Linked DNA regions of Homo sapiens. The protein of the gene in region 1 interacts with the protein of each later gene in a pairwise test. Each region holds a gene or a part of one and is shown on either strand. Other genes may lie near its edges.

The links. Proteins that work in one complex are often made in the same cells at the same time.
Region 2: the proteins of PGRMC2 (region 1) and BAG4 interact in binary tests that used the Homo sapiens proteins (3 or more experiments, as listed by UniProt).

What each region holds. Positions count from the first base shown.
Region 1 is NC_000004.12:128,277,423-128,285,295, reverse strand, and holds part of PGRMC2 (membrane-associated progesterone receptor component 2), read left to right. Parts: intron 1-7,873. UniProt on the Homo sapiens protein: Required for the maintenance of uterine histoarchitecture and normal female reproductive lifespan. May serve as a universal non-classical progesterone receptor in the uterus.
Region 2 is NC_000008.11:38,200,246-38,208,118, reverse strand, and holds part of BAG4 (BAG family molecular chaperone regulator 4), read right to left. Parts: intron 608-7,873; coding exon 353-607; intron 1-352. UniProt on the Homo sapiens protein: Inhibits the chaperone activity of HSP70/HSC70 by promoting substrate release. Prevents constitutive TNFRSF1A signaling. Negative regulator of PRKN translocation to damaged mitochondria.

The sequences.
Region 1 (7,873 bases):
AATCAGCTAGACGTGGTGGCGGGTGCCTGTAATCCCAGCTACTCGGGAGGCGGAGGCAGGGAGAGTTGCTGGAACCCGGGAGGTGGGGGTTGCAGTGAGCCGAGATTGCGCCATTGCACTCCAGCCTGGGCGACAGAGAGAGACTCGGTATAAAAAAAAATTAAAAATTAAGAGTCATAGGTGGTAGATTGCTTTTTTATGGTATGTGCACTGAGGGAGGCTCTTGAGATTACAATGGAGAAGTCAGTTTTAGATTAGTTTCTGCCAGTTCCTAGGTTCTGTTGAACAGCCTAAGAGTGATATACAGTTAGTATTCTACAGTTGATCAACAACATAACAGATATTTGAATATTTTATTATTGAAAGGAACCTTAAAGAAAGCCAGATCATTTTATGGGCTTAGAATATGTTGATATTGCATATTAATAGAAAATGTAATAAGTAGTACTTTTCAAAAAATCTTAAAGCCAAATTTCTGGCTATAAAACAGATACAAGTTCAGTTTTGCTTTTAATTTTTATTTTCATCCTCATAAATTAAGCAGTTTTGTAGCAGAATAATTCAGAAGCAGTAATTGTTAGTTTCTATGCCTAGCCAATATCTACCCTAATTTCACAATAATGGTTTTAGGATTAAATTTTGTGAGATTTTTCCATAATGCTAAACATGTGTTTATTTTTAGTCATACATTTTTAAAGTTCAGGCTCTTAATTAAATATTGACAGTGTAATTTGGTGGAGTATACACATTTTGGCAAACAGTTGGCATTAACTGTATTTGCCAATATTAAATTTAGTAACAGATCAGGCACTTGGCCAGCAGGTGAGGAAAGTTTGGTCATGTAAAAAACTGAATACAGGAGGAGAAAGAAAACCAGATTCGTTAAGCACCCACAATATCAGATCCATTAATTTTTTTATCTCCATAATTCCTCAGTGAAGTTGGTAAGTATTCCTGCTCTACAGGTGGGGAGTCTGAGGTCTAGGTATTTTAGGTAAATTGGCTTGGATTACATGTATGTCTAATAAATCCAGATGGATATTACCACACAGCTTATCTATACTATTTCTAGTAAACTGCATCCTGTGATAAACTTGTAGAGAATCTTACTGTTGTTTTTCTTTATACTCTTCCCTGGTTCCCATAAATCCAAGGATTTAAAGCCTCAAAAAAAACATGCCTTTCGGCCAGGCACGGTGGCTCACGCGTGTAATCCCAGCACTTTGGGAGGCTGAGGCAAGCGGATCACTTGAGGTCAGGAGTTTGAGACCAGACTGTCCAACATGGTGAAACCCCATCTCTACTAAAAAAAAAAAAATAAAAATAAAAAAATAAAGGCCAGGCACGGTGGCTCATGCCTTAATCCCAGCACTTTGAGAGACCAAGGCGGGCAGATCACCTGAGGTCAGGAGTTCGGGACCAGCCTGGCCAACATGGCCAAACCCTGTTTCTACAAAAATACAAAAAAAAATTAGCTGAGCTTGATGGTGGGTGCCTGTAATCCCAGCTACTGGGGAGGCTGAGGCAAGAGAATCACTTGAACCTAGGAGGTGGAGGTTGCAGTGAGCTGAGATCTCGCCATTGCACTCCAGCCTGGATGACAGAACGAGACTCTGTCTCAAAAAAAAAAAAAAAATGCTTTTATGGCTTTATGTTATACTGCCCAAAATGGTGGCCCCAGGTGGCTAATTAAAAGTAAATTAATTAAAATTAGATATAATTAAAAATTGAGTTCCTTAGTAACACTAGCCACATATAAAGTGCTGAGCCCACCATGGCTACCATTTTGGACAGTGCACTTTGTATATTTTCATATTGTGAGACTGGCGTGCCACCTACTGCACTAACAAGGCACCTCTTAGAGTATTTCTGTCTTCCCAGAGAGTTGTTGAAAACAACACTGATTCTAAAGGTCAGAGGAGGAGAAGGAGGAAACTCCATTTATTGAGCTTAGTATCGCTAATTTTCAAACAGCCCTATGAGATTGCCCAAAGCCACATATCTAGTAGGTGGCAACACTAAAAATTAAATCCAGATTTTCATAGCTTCAATCCTTCCCATTGTATTACAACATAGTCTATTCAGTTTCACATGTTTACAGAATCATAAGTTTTGAAGACTCAAACAGCTAGTATAATTTTTAACAATTTTATTTAATATTACTGCAATGGAACTTTACCAAAACAGTGCTTTTATTTTTTTGGAATGGCAAAAAATTATACACTTGACTTTTTGATAGTTTATTTTGCGTTGTTGAACCTTGCAATACTGCTGCTCCCTTATTCCAGGTGGAGTATTCTTTGACATATACCAAAGCTATATTTTTTCCAACTTACCTTTTAAATTCCACTGAAAGAAAAAAGTCACGTAAGAAGAACCCCATGAGATGCCTAATATTTAGGAGGTTGGGGAAAAGAACACATGTACCTTGAAGTGTTTTTCCTCCATTTTAAACTTTATCTTCAATTTGTTCACTTTTATTTAACACTTTAGTTTGCAGAATTGGAAACTCTGTGTTTGCAGAGTTGCATCATAAAAACTGGACCCAATCTTACCTATTTCTTCATGGATGTCCTAAAGTTGCCACTGCCCACCTCTCATCCCAGCTTCTTGCTTTGAAGCCAACTGGCTTTGTTGTTTGGGCTAATGCCCATATGCATCTATTACCTACCAGTAAGATAAAAGGATTAGCTAGGTTTTCTGATGATTTTTTATATTCTGCTCAAATTTCTACTAGTTATTTCTATTATAACTACTTAGTTGGCTCTGAATTCAACATCATCCCGTTGTTTTTAATCTTTGAGGGAATCGTATTTGTGTTAAATCCTAAAGCATATTATAAAAGGATAGCTTGAAACCAGAAGCTGTTATTCAGGGTGGAAGAAAGGAGTAGATTTAATAACATCTGGAATTAGCCATTCAAGTTCTTTTAATTGTTTTTTCAACACTCTGACATAGACCACTCCTTTCCCTGTGCACCCAAGACAGACATGACTGTATAACTCCTGTATTCTTTTGGAGCCTATATCCAGTCTCAGGATCTTTAATAATAGGATTTCAGCTCCATTTTTAAATACTGAGGAAGACTTCCCTGGATTTCATTACAGTAAAAGCTTAAGAGATGAGAAATGGAGTTAACTGAGTCTTCAAAACAGATGTGTTCCTATCCTCATGGAGTTAATAGTCTATTAAGGAAGAGAGGCAGTAAACAAGGATTTCAGTATGTAATTATAATCTGTAATATGCTATAAAAGAAATTAATAGAATGGGAATAGAGGGTAACAAAGGACTTTATTTAGATTAAGTGGCTAAGCAAGGTTACCTTTTTTATGTTAGATTCTCGAGAAAAAGGGCTCGACATTTAAGCAAAAACCTAACAGAGCCAGCCATACAAAGATTGGGTATGAGAATGTTCTGAAGTGAGATTGTTACTATGCTTTCTATACCGAGCAAAGCCATCTAGCAGTAGATCTAGAACTGATCATACTAGAAACCTCTTTAACACTGTTGATTTTCAGATTTTACTTCAGCCTTTATCTGATTAGTATTAACACAATATTTCATTTTCCATCCCTTTTAGTCAATCTGTGTTGTTTTATTTTTCTCACATTAATGACATATAGCTGGATTTTTTCATTTAATATTAGCACTATGTCCTTTAATAGCTTAATTAGTGTATATGTTTTGTGATTACGGGTATATTTAGGTTTATTTCTATCATCTTATTTTGTGATTTCTCTTCACCTTACTTTTCTTTGCCTCTTTTCCCACTATTTTTCCTTCTCTGATTGATTTTTTTATTTCTTCCATTTTCTCTCCTCTACTGATTTGGATGTATTCTATTTCTATCCTTTTAGTGATTTCCTTAAGTTTTTGCTATAGATGACTATCCTATGCTTCTGAACAATATAAGAATTTTAGCCAAACATCATTTTAGTGTCAATTTGAAAAAGCTGCCTCTTTAAGATACTTTACTGACATTTGACAGATTATTTCTTAATAAATAAGCAAAACTGCCATGACTACAAATATGGATAGTATCCCCTGCGTTGTACATAGTCATATGTTGAGGCCCTGGTTAGAAAGCTTTAACTCTGATTCCTCCCCCATCCTGTTTTCCACAGTATCACTATTAGACTTTAGCTTCACTTTGTTTTTTCAAACTCCACCCCAAAATTGATGAAATTATTATCTTTTTAATATAGTCCTTGTTTAAATTTACTAACATGGTTATCATTTTTTTAATTCACTGTTGTTTCTTGCATCTCATTTCTTTGGGGTTCACTTTTTATTTTAGTGAGGTGTGTCCTATAGTTTTTCACTGGCAGGAAAAAATTTTTTATTTTTCCTCACTCAGGAATAATAGTTTGGGTTTAGAATATAAAATTGTAGATTGGGCCAGGCGCAGTGGCTCATGCCTATAATCCTACCATTTTTGGGAGACCAAGGTGGGAGGACTGCTTGAGCCCAGCAGTTCAAGACTAGCCTGGGCAATATGGCGAGACTCTGTCTCTTACAAAAATATAAAAAATTAGCTAGGCATAGTGACATGCACCTGTGGCCCCAGCTACTCAAGAGTCTGAGGTATTAAGATCGCTTGAGCCCAGAAGATCAATGAGCCTTGATAACACCACTGCACTCAACCTGGGTGACAGAGCAAGACCCTGTCTCAAAAAAAAATGTAAATTGACCTTATTATACCTCAACTCTTGAGTAGCGTTATGCCACTGTCTTCCACTTGTTGGTGAGGAGTCGGCTTGTAGTTTCTCTTTACTTTTATTAATCTTTTTCTTCCTTTTGGTTGTAGTTGAGATCTTTTTGTCTTTGGGGTTTTGCTATTTTACTAGGATTTGTCCAGGTATGGATTTGATTTTATTTACCATGTACCAAACTCTACTCAAGTCTGTGGATATATTGTCCTTTTTTTTTTTTTTTTTTTTTTCCCAGAAAATTTGCTGTTACTTATTGCCTCTTCCATTATCTCTGTTCCTTCCTCTGGAACTGTTAATAGATATACATTAGGTTTTCATTCTATTCTTAATGTCTCTTAATCTTTCCTTTTGTACCATTTCTTAATAATTTTAAGCAAATTTACTTTAGTTCTTTAATCTGCTTCTGTATCTGTTATATGTGCCCACTCCTCCATGATGGTTTGTTTCTTCATGTAGTTTATATTTTTTATTGTGAACTTATTATCTTCAGTAGTTACTTTTTTTAATTTTGGAGTATTTCCTGTAAAATTCCATGAGCCCTAAGTTGTGAAAGAGGTAAAGTGCTTTGGGTATGTTGCAAAATAGGGCCTCACGTAAGTTAAAACAATGATTTTTTAAATTAAGTAATACATGCTCAAAATAGAAAATTCAAAAGGATATACAGTGAAAAATAAGTCTACTTCCCACAACTAGTCCCAGCCACCATGTTCCCTTCCATAGCAGCAAAGCACCAGTCTACGTATTGTTCTAGAGCTATTTTGGGTGCAAGTACAAGCATGTGGATATCTTCCTTTCCCCCCACACTAATTATAGTATACTATGCATACCCTTCACAATATTTTAATATCACAAGAGCCTTTGACATCAGTATAGAGAGCCATCTTATTCTTTTGAATACATGCATAATATTCTATTTTATGAATAAGTCATAATTTAACAGTCCACTGTTAACATTTGTTTTCAGTCTCCTGTTATTGCATGATGCTGCAATAAATATGTACATGTCATTTTACACATGTGTGTAAAATTATGATTATAAAGTAAATTCCTGGAAATAAAATTACCGAGGCTTGGGGTATGGATATTTTTAATTTGGATTCTTGTTTCTAAACTGCCCTTCAGAGAGGTTGGACCAATTTACACTTGATGAAAATGCCTGTTTCTCACTTCTTGCCAAAAACGTGGTATTAAGCTTCTTGGTCTTTGTCACTCTTGAGAGGTTAAAATGGTATCTCAATATTTGTTTAAATTTACATTTCTCATTTACTTAATGAGGTTGGACTTCTTTTTAAAAAGTTGAGTCATTTATGATGCCTTTTCTACAAATTGTTTATTCATATATCCTTTGCCACAGTTTTTCTCTTTTTTTTTTTTTGAGACAGAGTTTCACTCTTGTTGCCCAGGCTGGAGTGCAATGATGCAATCTCGGCTCACTGCAACCTCTGCCTGCTGGGTTCAAGCGATTCTCCTGCCTCAGCCTCCCGAGTAGCTGGGATTGCAGGCATGCGCCACGACACCCAGCTAATTTTGTATTTTTAGTAGAGACGGGGTTTCTCCATGTTGGTCAGTCTGGTCTCGAACTCCTGACCTCGGGCAATCCGCCCACCTCAGCCTCCCAAAGTGCTGAGATTACAGGCATGAGCCACTGCGCCCAGCCCTGCTGCAGTTTTTCAATCATCATATTGATCGTACAGATTTTAGGTGTTCTTTATAAAGTAAATCAGCCTTTGCCGCAAATATTTTTTCTAGTTTGTCCTTTTACTTATTTATGGTGTTTTTTTGAACCACACAAAGTTTTGGTTTTATGTATTCAAATTTATCTTTTCTTTTATAGCTGCTAAGTTATGTATTATATTTAAAGACTTTATGCACTTAAAATTGTTTTTAAAAATCTGTAGTTTTTTTAGTACTTCTGTGGTCTCAGTTTTTTAGTTCCATTTGAAATTGATTTTGCTTTAAGATGTGAAATTAGAGTCCAAATTTGGTGGGGTGGTGGGTGTTTGTTTGTTTTTGAGAAGGAATCTTGCTCTGTCACCCAGGCTAGAGTGCAGTGGCGCCATCTCGGCTCACTGCAACCTGCGTATCCCGGGTTCAAGCGATTCTCCTGCCTCAGCCTCTTGAGTAACCGGGATTACAGGCGCCCACCACCGTGCCCGGCTAATTTTTATATTTTTAGTATAAGAGACAGGGTTTCACCATCTTGGCCAGGTTGGTCTCAAACTCCTGACCTCGTGATCTACCCGCCTTGGCCTCCCAAGGGGTTGTGTTTTTTAACAGAAGGTTATCTAGTTGTCCCAACATGTTTCCCCAACAGGGGAATAATCCCTTTTTCCTAATACTTGAAGTATTATCTTTAGTGTTCATTAATTCTTATAGATATTTGAGTTCATACTATTTTTTCACCTTGGAATTTTCATTCTGCATGGGTTGCATAAACTCAGGCCCCACTCCCATAAGTGGCACGGGCCTGGGCTTTTAATTTTTCTGTCTTTTCTTTACCCCAGCCTACCCATGCACCCTGGAGTTAAGGCCATATGCTCAGTTCACAATGTTGCTGAGCGCTTTTGACAGTAGCTCAAATTTCAGAAGCAAGATTGCACTTTCAGTCACTTATAGAATCATACTATTCAAGAGATTATTTAGTTTGGTCTCAACTTCAGGCAGGTAAAATAATTTTCCTAATTTATATTTGAGGGATCTAAGGACTATGGAAATCGAGACTTGTTGATTGTGAGTGGATCCTCTAGAACCCAAGTATCTGTCTTCTTGAGAGGTATTATTTCAGTTTTACCATACTGCATTCTCTCTAAAAGTCTTGGGACTTACTGGACCTAAGCATAAAAAAATTTATTAGTTCAGTTAATCACTTTTACATATTGCCTCATTTGTTGATAGGCTGATTATAATCTTATTTGAAATAAATTACCCAATACTAAGTGTTATTAGTTACTCAATTTATAATCACAAAAGATTATTGTCAAAACAGGCCTGAAAACTGCACTGTTGATAAACTTTAATTAATTAAAGTTCATCTCTGAGAGATATGGTTTTTAAACTGTGAGAATAATTAAAATATCCCTTTAGAAACACTAAGGTAGCTATATAATCATCCTAATAATCACAAAATTATCTGTTACTACATATTTACTTCCTCCTGGAAT
Region 2 (7,873 bases), on another chromosome or scaffold:
TGTAATCCCAGCTACTTGGGAGGCTGAGGCAGAAGAATTGCTTGAACCCAGGAGGTAGAGGTTGCAGTGAGCCAAGATCACGCCACAAAAAAAAAAAAAAGGCTAAGATAGGGAAACTTTCAAGCAGCAACTCTCTAAAGATTACTTTCAGTATAAAAATTTATGATTATGACCTTCAGCCAAAGTCCATTTACTGCAATAGCTGCCACAAATAAGAAAGGCATCAATATAAAAGCCTTCCCAATCTAGAAGTGTCTTATTAAATCAGCACTAGTATGAACAGATGCTCTTCCACTGTTTACAAGAGGCAGAGACTTTGAATTCATTTTTTTCCCAATAGAAAACAACTCACCTGTGAAGGCGGATATCCTGGAACCTGCCCCCTAAGAGGGGGTGCTTCAGTCTGACAGTCCTGCTGGGGATAGATCCAACGAGAGACTGGAGTTGGGCTGTTGCCAGATGAACGGTAAGTACTTGGAACTTCTGTGGAGTAACTGGTCTGAGTATAACCAGGTGCATAATAAGCCCCTGAGTATGAGGCAGTATTTGCCCCAGGGCCTGGGGGGTATGTTGGACCATACGCTCCATTTGTATAAGAATTCAAACTCTGAAAAAAACCAAGTTGAGTGAAAAAAAGATGAATTAGTAGAAGAGCTGAAATGCCCTGACTTAATGCCTAAACTTGAAAACTTTGAGAAGATGTTAATCACTAATGCAGGCCAGGCACAGTGGCTCATGCCTGTAATCCCAGCACTTTGGGAGCCCAAGGTGGGAGAATCATTTGAGGTCAGGAGTTTGAGACCAGCCTGGACAACATAGTGAGACCCTGTTTCTACAAAAATAAAATAAAATAATTAGCCAGGCATTGCCAGGCACAGTGGCTCAAGCCTGTAATCCTAGCACTTTGGGAGGCCGAGGCGGGTGGGTCACCTGAGGTCAGGAGTTCTAGACCAGCCTGGCCAAAATGGTGAAACCCCATCTCTACTAAAAATACAAAAATTAACCGGGCATGGTGGCAGGCGCCTGTAATCCCAGCTACTCGGGGGGCTGACGCAGGAGAATCGCTTGAACCCAGGAGGCGGAGGTTGCAGTGAGCCAAGATCGTGCCATCGCACTCCAGCCTGGGGGACAAGAGTAAGACTTCATCTCAAAAAAAAAAAAAAAAAAAAAATTATCTAGGCCTCATGGCACACATCTGTAGTCCAAGCTACTCAGGAGGCTGAGGTGAGAGGATTGCTTGAGCCCAGGAGGTCAAGGCTGCAGTGAGTCATGGTTGTACCACTGCACTCCAGCCTGGGCAACAGAGTGAGACTCTGTCTCAGAAAGTATAAGAAAACAAAAAAATTATTTAAAAAGACTATAGAGACAGACCTAGCTCTGCCATAGGCTTTGTATTTAACCTTCCCTAACTTCAGTTTCTCCATCAGGAAAATGAAGATCATAAACGTATCTTTGAGGATTACTGTCAAAATTAAATAAGATGACATATATAAAAGGTTTAGCATAGTGTCTGGCATATAGTATGCTCAATAAATGGTAATTATTTGTATTATGACTGTTGTTAGTATTATCATGGCTGGGTCATGACATGAACCCAGATCTGACTCTGAAGTCCAGTTCTTTGTATTACACCATCACTCTGCATCCCAAATGATACCAACAACAAACTCCTCATATATTGCTCACTGTAGTTTTAAATAACCTATTCAGACTCTTATCCACACCCAGAATCCTCAGTTTAATAATCCAAACAAGATTCAAGCTAGGCAGGCGCACAGGCTCATGCCTGTAATCCCAGCACTTTGGGAGGCTGAGAAGGGAGGATCACTTTTTTTTTTTTTTTTAAGATGGAGTCTTGCTCTGTCACCCAGGCTGGAGTGCAGTAGCAAGATCTTGGCTCACTGCAACCTCCACCCCCCAGATTCAAGCGATTCTCCTGCCTCAGCCTCCCAAGTAGCTGGGATTACAGGCATGCTATAATTTTTGTACTTTTAGTAGAGATGGGATTTCACCATCTTGGCCAGGCTGGTCTCGAACTCCTGACCTCATATCCACCCGCCTCAGCCTCCCAAAGTGCTGGGATTACAGGCATGAGCTACTGCATCCAGCCTAGGAGGGAGGATCACTTGAGCTCAGGAGTTACAGACCAGCCTCAGGAATATAGTCAAACCCCATCTATTTAAAAAAAAAAAAAAAAGTAATTTTTAAAAAAAGATTCAAGCTTAATGCTAAATTTAAATGATCACCTCAACGTGTTCTATTAATTTCTACTTTACCCTTTAAAAACAGTGAAAACACAGAATCCAGTTTTCCTATACTCATCTCTATCTCGAAGACTATATAATCTTTCCCACTTTAGGTATGAGGATACCCATGACCAAAGAATTCCATGCAGGATGAGGTATAATAAACAGTCAGCAATGCATTCCCTGAGCAGAAGACCATGAACCACCACTATGTTAAAACTACTAAGAGGCTGTTAAGGTCTTCGGGCATAAACAAAGAACTCCGTAATACATCACACACACAATTGGAGACTTAATAAAACATTATGTGACTTTTTGTACTGTTATTCAACTTCTAGAAATCCTAAGGAAATGATTCAACTAGAGAAAAAGTTATAGACATGAAGTTCTTCATCGCAGCATTATTTACAATCACACAAAATTGTAAACTACCTAAATGTCCTATAACAATGGAATCTTTAAGTAGATTAAAGACTATTCATTGAAAAAATTGTATTCAGTCTTCAAATTTTATTGTTATGGCTAGGCGCACAGACTCATGCCTGTAAAAATCCCAGCGTTTTGGGAAGCCAAGGTGGGAGGATTGCTTGAGCCCAGGAGTCTGAGAACAGCCTGTGCAAACAGCAAGACCTCATCTCTACAAAAAAAAAAAAAAAAAAAAAAAAAAAAATTAATTAGCTGGGCGTGGTATGGCACAGCTATAGTCCTTAGCTACACAGGAGGCTGAGGCAGGAGGATCGTTTGAGCCTAGGAGTTCAATGTTACAGTGAGCTATAATCAAGCCACTGTTCTCTAGCCTGGGTGACAGTAAGACCCTGTCTTCAACTAGCTAACTAACTAAATAAATATTTTACTGTTAGAACTGACCAGATATTTAATGATATGAAATAATTATTTTTAAGGTTGTTTTTTTCCTTTTAAGTTTTAATTTTTAATTAAAAATGTTTAAAAACATTGTGGTTATGTTTTTAAAACTTCCTTATATTTTAAAGAAACATACTTAGGTATTTATAAGTGATAAAATGATATCTGAAATTGCTTCAAAATACTCCAAGGAAATACTCCAAGAATAAATACACGACGGCCATGTACTGATAACCCATTGAAACCAATAGATGGGTTCATGTTACTTTAGTGTGTGATTCTCATTGCTTTTATGTGGCTTTTGTTGTTTATTTTTTTTCTTTTTCCCTTCTCACAGGCGTTGTTTTTGTTTTTTTTTTCGTTGTTGTTGTTTTTCTTTAAATAGAAATGAGGTCACGCTATGTTGCCAGGCTAGTCTCAAACTTTTAGGCTGAAGTGATCCTGGCACCTCAGCCTCCCAAAGTGCTGGGATTATACCATGCCTGGCCATTACTTTTTTTCTCCCCAAGACACCCAGGGTAGAATGCAGTGGCACAATCACGGCTCACTGCAGCCTCAAACTCCGGGCTCAAGCAATCCTCCCACCTTAGCATCCTAAGTAACTGGGACCACAGGCATGCACCACCATGCCTGGCTAATTTTTGTATTTTTTGTAGAGACAGGGTTTGGCCATGTTGCCCAGGCTGATCTCGAACTCCTGGGCTCAAGCAATCCACTCGCCTCAGCTTCCCAAAGTGCTGGGATTACAGGTGTGAGCCACCACATCTGGCCAGCCATTACTTTTGATGCTTGAAAATTTCCTTGATTCCTGGAATTACTTCCTGGTTTTGAGATGCCTTCATGAGTTCATTGCTTCTTTTCCCAAATAACCACTGTCCTGACAGATCACAAAGCTGTCACATGCATGTTTACAAAAGAACACAGAATCAGATTATATAACAGCCTTGCAGTTGCTAAAGATGTTTGTTAAGGATGAGCTAAAGATCCTATTTCAGAAACGTGGCAAAGTTTTTAAGTCTTTGTCTGAAAAGCAGCTTGTGTGAAAGTTGCCAATGCCAAGATGGAGTCACTTACATCAGACCCAAAATGGAGGGGGAGGTCACGAAGGAGGGGATCTCATGCACACATGTCTGCGATAAGTATTATCACAAGGACTTTTTTTTTTTTTTTTTTTGAGACAGGGTCTCACTCTGTCACCCAGGCTAGAGTACAGTGGCACCATCATAGCTCACTGCAGCCTAGATCTCCCAGGCTCAAGTTATCCTCCTGCCTCAGCCTCCCAAGTAGCTTGGACTACAGGTATGAGCCACTGCACCCAGCCTATATCACAGGGCTTTCTAAAAACTCACAAAAAATCCCTGTAGGCCCTACTCATCTTGCTTGTCCTACATATGTCTGTAACAGGACTTATCACAAAAAATTCCTCAACCAGGCACGGTGGCTCACACCTGTAATCTGAGCACTTTGGGAGGCCAAGGTGGGCGGATCACGAGGTCAGGAGATCGAGACCATCCTGGCTAACACGGTGAAACCCTGTCTCTACTAAAAATACAAAAAAATTAGCTGGGCGTGGTGGCAGGCGACTGTAGTCCCAGCTACTCAGGAGGCTGAGGCAGGAGAATGGCGTGAACTCGGGAGGCGGAGCTTGCAGTGAGCCAAGATCGTGCCATGGCACTCCAGCCTGGGCGACAGAGTGAAACTCTGTCCAAAAAAAGAAAAAAAAAAAATTCCTCAAGACTGCAGTTTCACATAAGCCATCTTCATAAGAACACTCGCTTAGCAATGAGTTTCCAGTAACATCAGCTCCTACAACAGGCCCCTGTGACCAATGATGTTTGTCTCAAAACAGCTTATATGGACTTCTCCTCTTTCCCTTTAAAAGTTTCCCCTTACTACAACTTCTCCAGATATGTAGGGGATGATTATCTATGGTATGCGCATCTGAAATTGTAATTCTCTGTTTATTTCCAAACAGATTCATTTCTTTGAAGAGTCCTTCTCTCTGTTGTTATTTTAGGTTGACACTTGGAGCACAGCAAAGAAAATACAGGAGTTCCTTGCACCATTTAGAGTCATAAGACGGAATCCAAAAAGGAAGAAAATGCTTCTAGGACTTCAGAACAGATTTCTGTTACATATTAAAGTATGTCATAAAAATGAAGGACTTGGCCAGGCGTGGTAGCTCATTCTTGTAATTCTAGCACTTTGGGAGACCAAGGCAGGTGGATCGCTTGAGGTCAGGAGTTCCAGACCAGCCTGGGCAACAAAGTGAGACCCCATCTCTACAAAAAATACAAAAATTAGCCAGGTGTAGTGGCGTATGCCTAAGGTCCCAGCCACTCAAGCAGTTAAGGTGGGAGGATCACCTGAGCCAGAGGAGATTGAGGCTGCAGTGAGCTGTGATCATGCCATTGCACTCCAGCCTGAGAAACAGAAAAAAAAAAAAAAAGGGGGCCGAGCACAGTGGCTCATGCCTGTAATCCTAGCACTTTGGAAGGCCAAGGCAGGTGGACTGCTTAAACTCAAAGAGTTTAAGATAAGCGGGGGCAACCCCCTCTCTACAAAAAATACAAAAATTAGCTGGGAATGGTGGCATGTGCCTGTAGTCCCAGCTACTCAGGAGGCTGCAGTGGGAGGATCGCTTGAGCCCAGGAGGTGGAGGTTGCAGTAAGCCAATATCATACCACTGTACTCCAGCCTGGGTGACAGAGGGAGACCTGGTCTCAAAAAAAGAAAGAAAAGAAAAGGAAAAAGAAGGACTTAAGAACAAAGCAGAAGCAACTCAACCGAGTTTGAATAATACTGAGAAAACCTCACGAACTTTATTAACAGTTGGGTGAGACAATATCTTCTGCTTCCAGAGATACAGCCTGAGATTGTGAACTTCCGTGCTGTTCACACCCTACTCCATGAATCGCCCTCCATGCTCCTCTCAAGAGTCCACACTATTAGTTAAAGAATGAAGTTCTGAAAAATGAGGAAGGCTTTAGTTCAAATGCTGCCCTAATACTTGCATAGCACATAAACTGCACCTGGCACATGGCAGGCTAATCAACTTGGAAGATTGGTCAGACACCTTAGCAACATTAACAGCTTCTTAAAAAAAAAAAAAAAAAAAAAAAAAAAAATATATATATATATATATATATATATATATATATATATATATATATAAATTCCACACTCAGAATAAATGCATGAAATTACATATTCTTGGCTTATTATAGCTACTTTTGAATGAGAATTTTTAAGATTTATAAAACCAACCAAACAGAAGAATGACCATGTGGCAAGGCTAACCCAAGGAGGTAGCCGGAAGGTAAAGACATGATACTGCTTAATTTTTTAAAAAGGAAACCAGTCATATCTATATACCACTATAGGAGTCTATCTTGGATAGAAGCTAGACCAAGTGCAATGGCTCACGCCTGTAATCCCAACACTTTGGGATGCTGAGGTAGAAGGATCACCTGAGCCCAGGAGTTCAAGACCAGCCTAGGCAACATAATGAGACCCCATCTCTGCAAAATATTTAAAAATTAAACCAGGTGTGGTTGCACGCACCTGTACCTAGGACACTGAGACAGGAGGATCACTTAAGTCCAGGAGTTCAAGGTTACAGTGATCTATGATTATGCCACTACAATGAACTGGGTGGTAGAGCAAGACTATCTATCTCAAGAAACAAACAAAAAAAAGATGATGATAAATGTATAATCCCCATGTGATGTTTCGCCAGAAAATACACATGTGCTCACCTCAAAAAGGTGTATGTCTAGACACCTTTGGGTTATTTTAAATCCAACAACTTGTATGTTGTATCTAAAAACATTTGCACATTATTACTGTTGCTTTTAAAAAGTTACTACTAAATTATAAGTTAATCTTTTTTGAACCTACATATGAATGTAATAAATACTTTTACCTAAGGGGGAAAATGTTATGAGAAAAAGCAATCTTTATCAGTAAGATCAGTGAAATCAGAAAAATTAACATTAACTTATAATTCATGACTATGAGTTTTGTCTCCCTCTTACATTAACTATAAAAGTACACATGCTACTCTCCAAACTGATCTATGATGCAATCTCAATAAAAATCTCAGCTGCCTGGCCAGGCATGGTGGCTCATGCCTGTAATCCCAGCACTTTGGGAGGCCAAGGCAAGCGGATCACCTGAGGTCCGGAGTTCGAGACCAGCCTGACCAACATGGAGAAACCCCATCTGTACTAAAAATACAAAATTAGCCGGGCGTGGTGGCGCATGCCTGTAATCCCAGCTACTCCAGAGGCTGAGACAGGAGAATGGCTTGAACTCGGGAGGTGGAGGTTGCTGTGAGCCAAGATCGTGCCATTGCACTCCAGCCTAGGCAACAAGAGCAAAACTCCAGCTCAAAAAAAAAAAGAAAAAAAGAAAATCTCAGCTGCCTTTTTTACATAAGTTGAAAAGCTGATCCTAAAATTCATATGAAAATGTAAGCAACCCAGAATAGCCGAAACCATATGGAAGAAGAAAAAGAAAAAAGAGAGAGAGAGTCCATCTCTTTGGAGAGACTCATACTTCCTGATTTCAAATTTTACTTCAGAGCCACAGTAATCAAAACAGTTTGGTATTGGCTTAAGGAAGACATATAGATTAATGGGACAGAATTGAGAGTCTGGAAATAAACCCTTACATTTATGATTTTTAGGAAGGGTACCCAGGCTGGGCACGGTGGCTCATGCCTGTAATTCCAGCACTTTGGGAGGCCGAGGCAGGTGGAT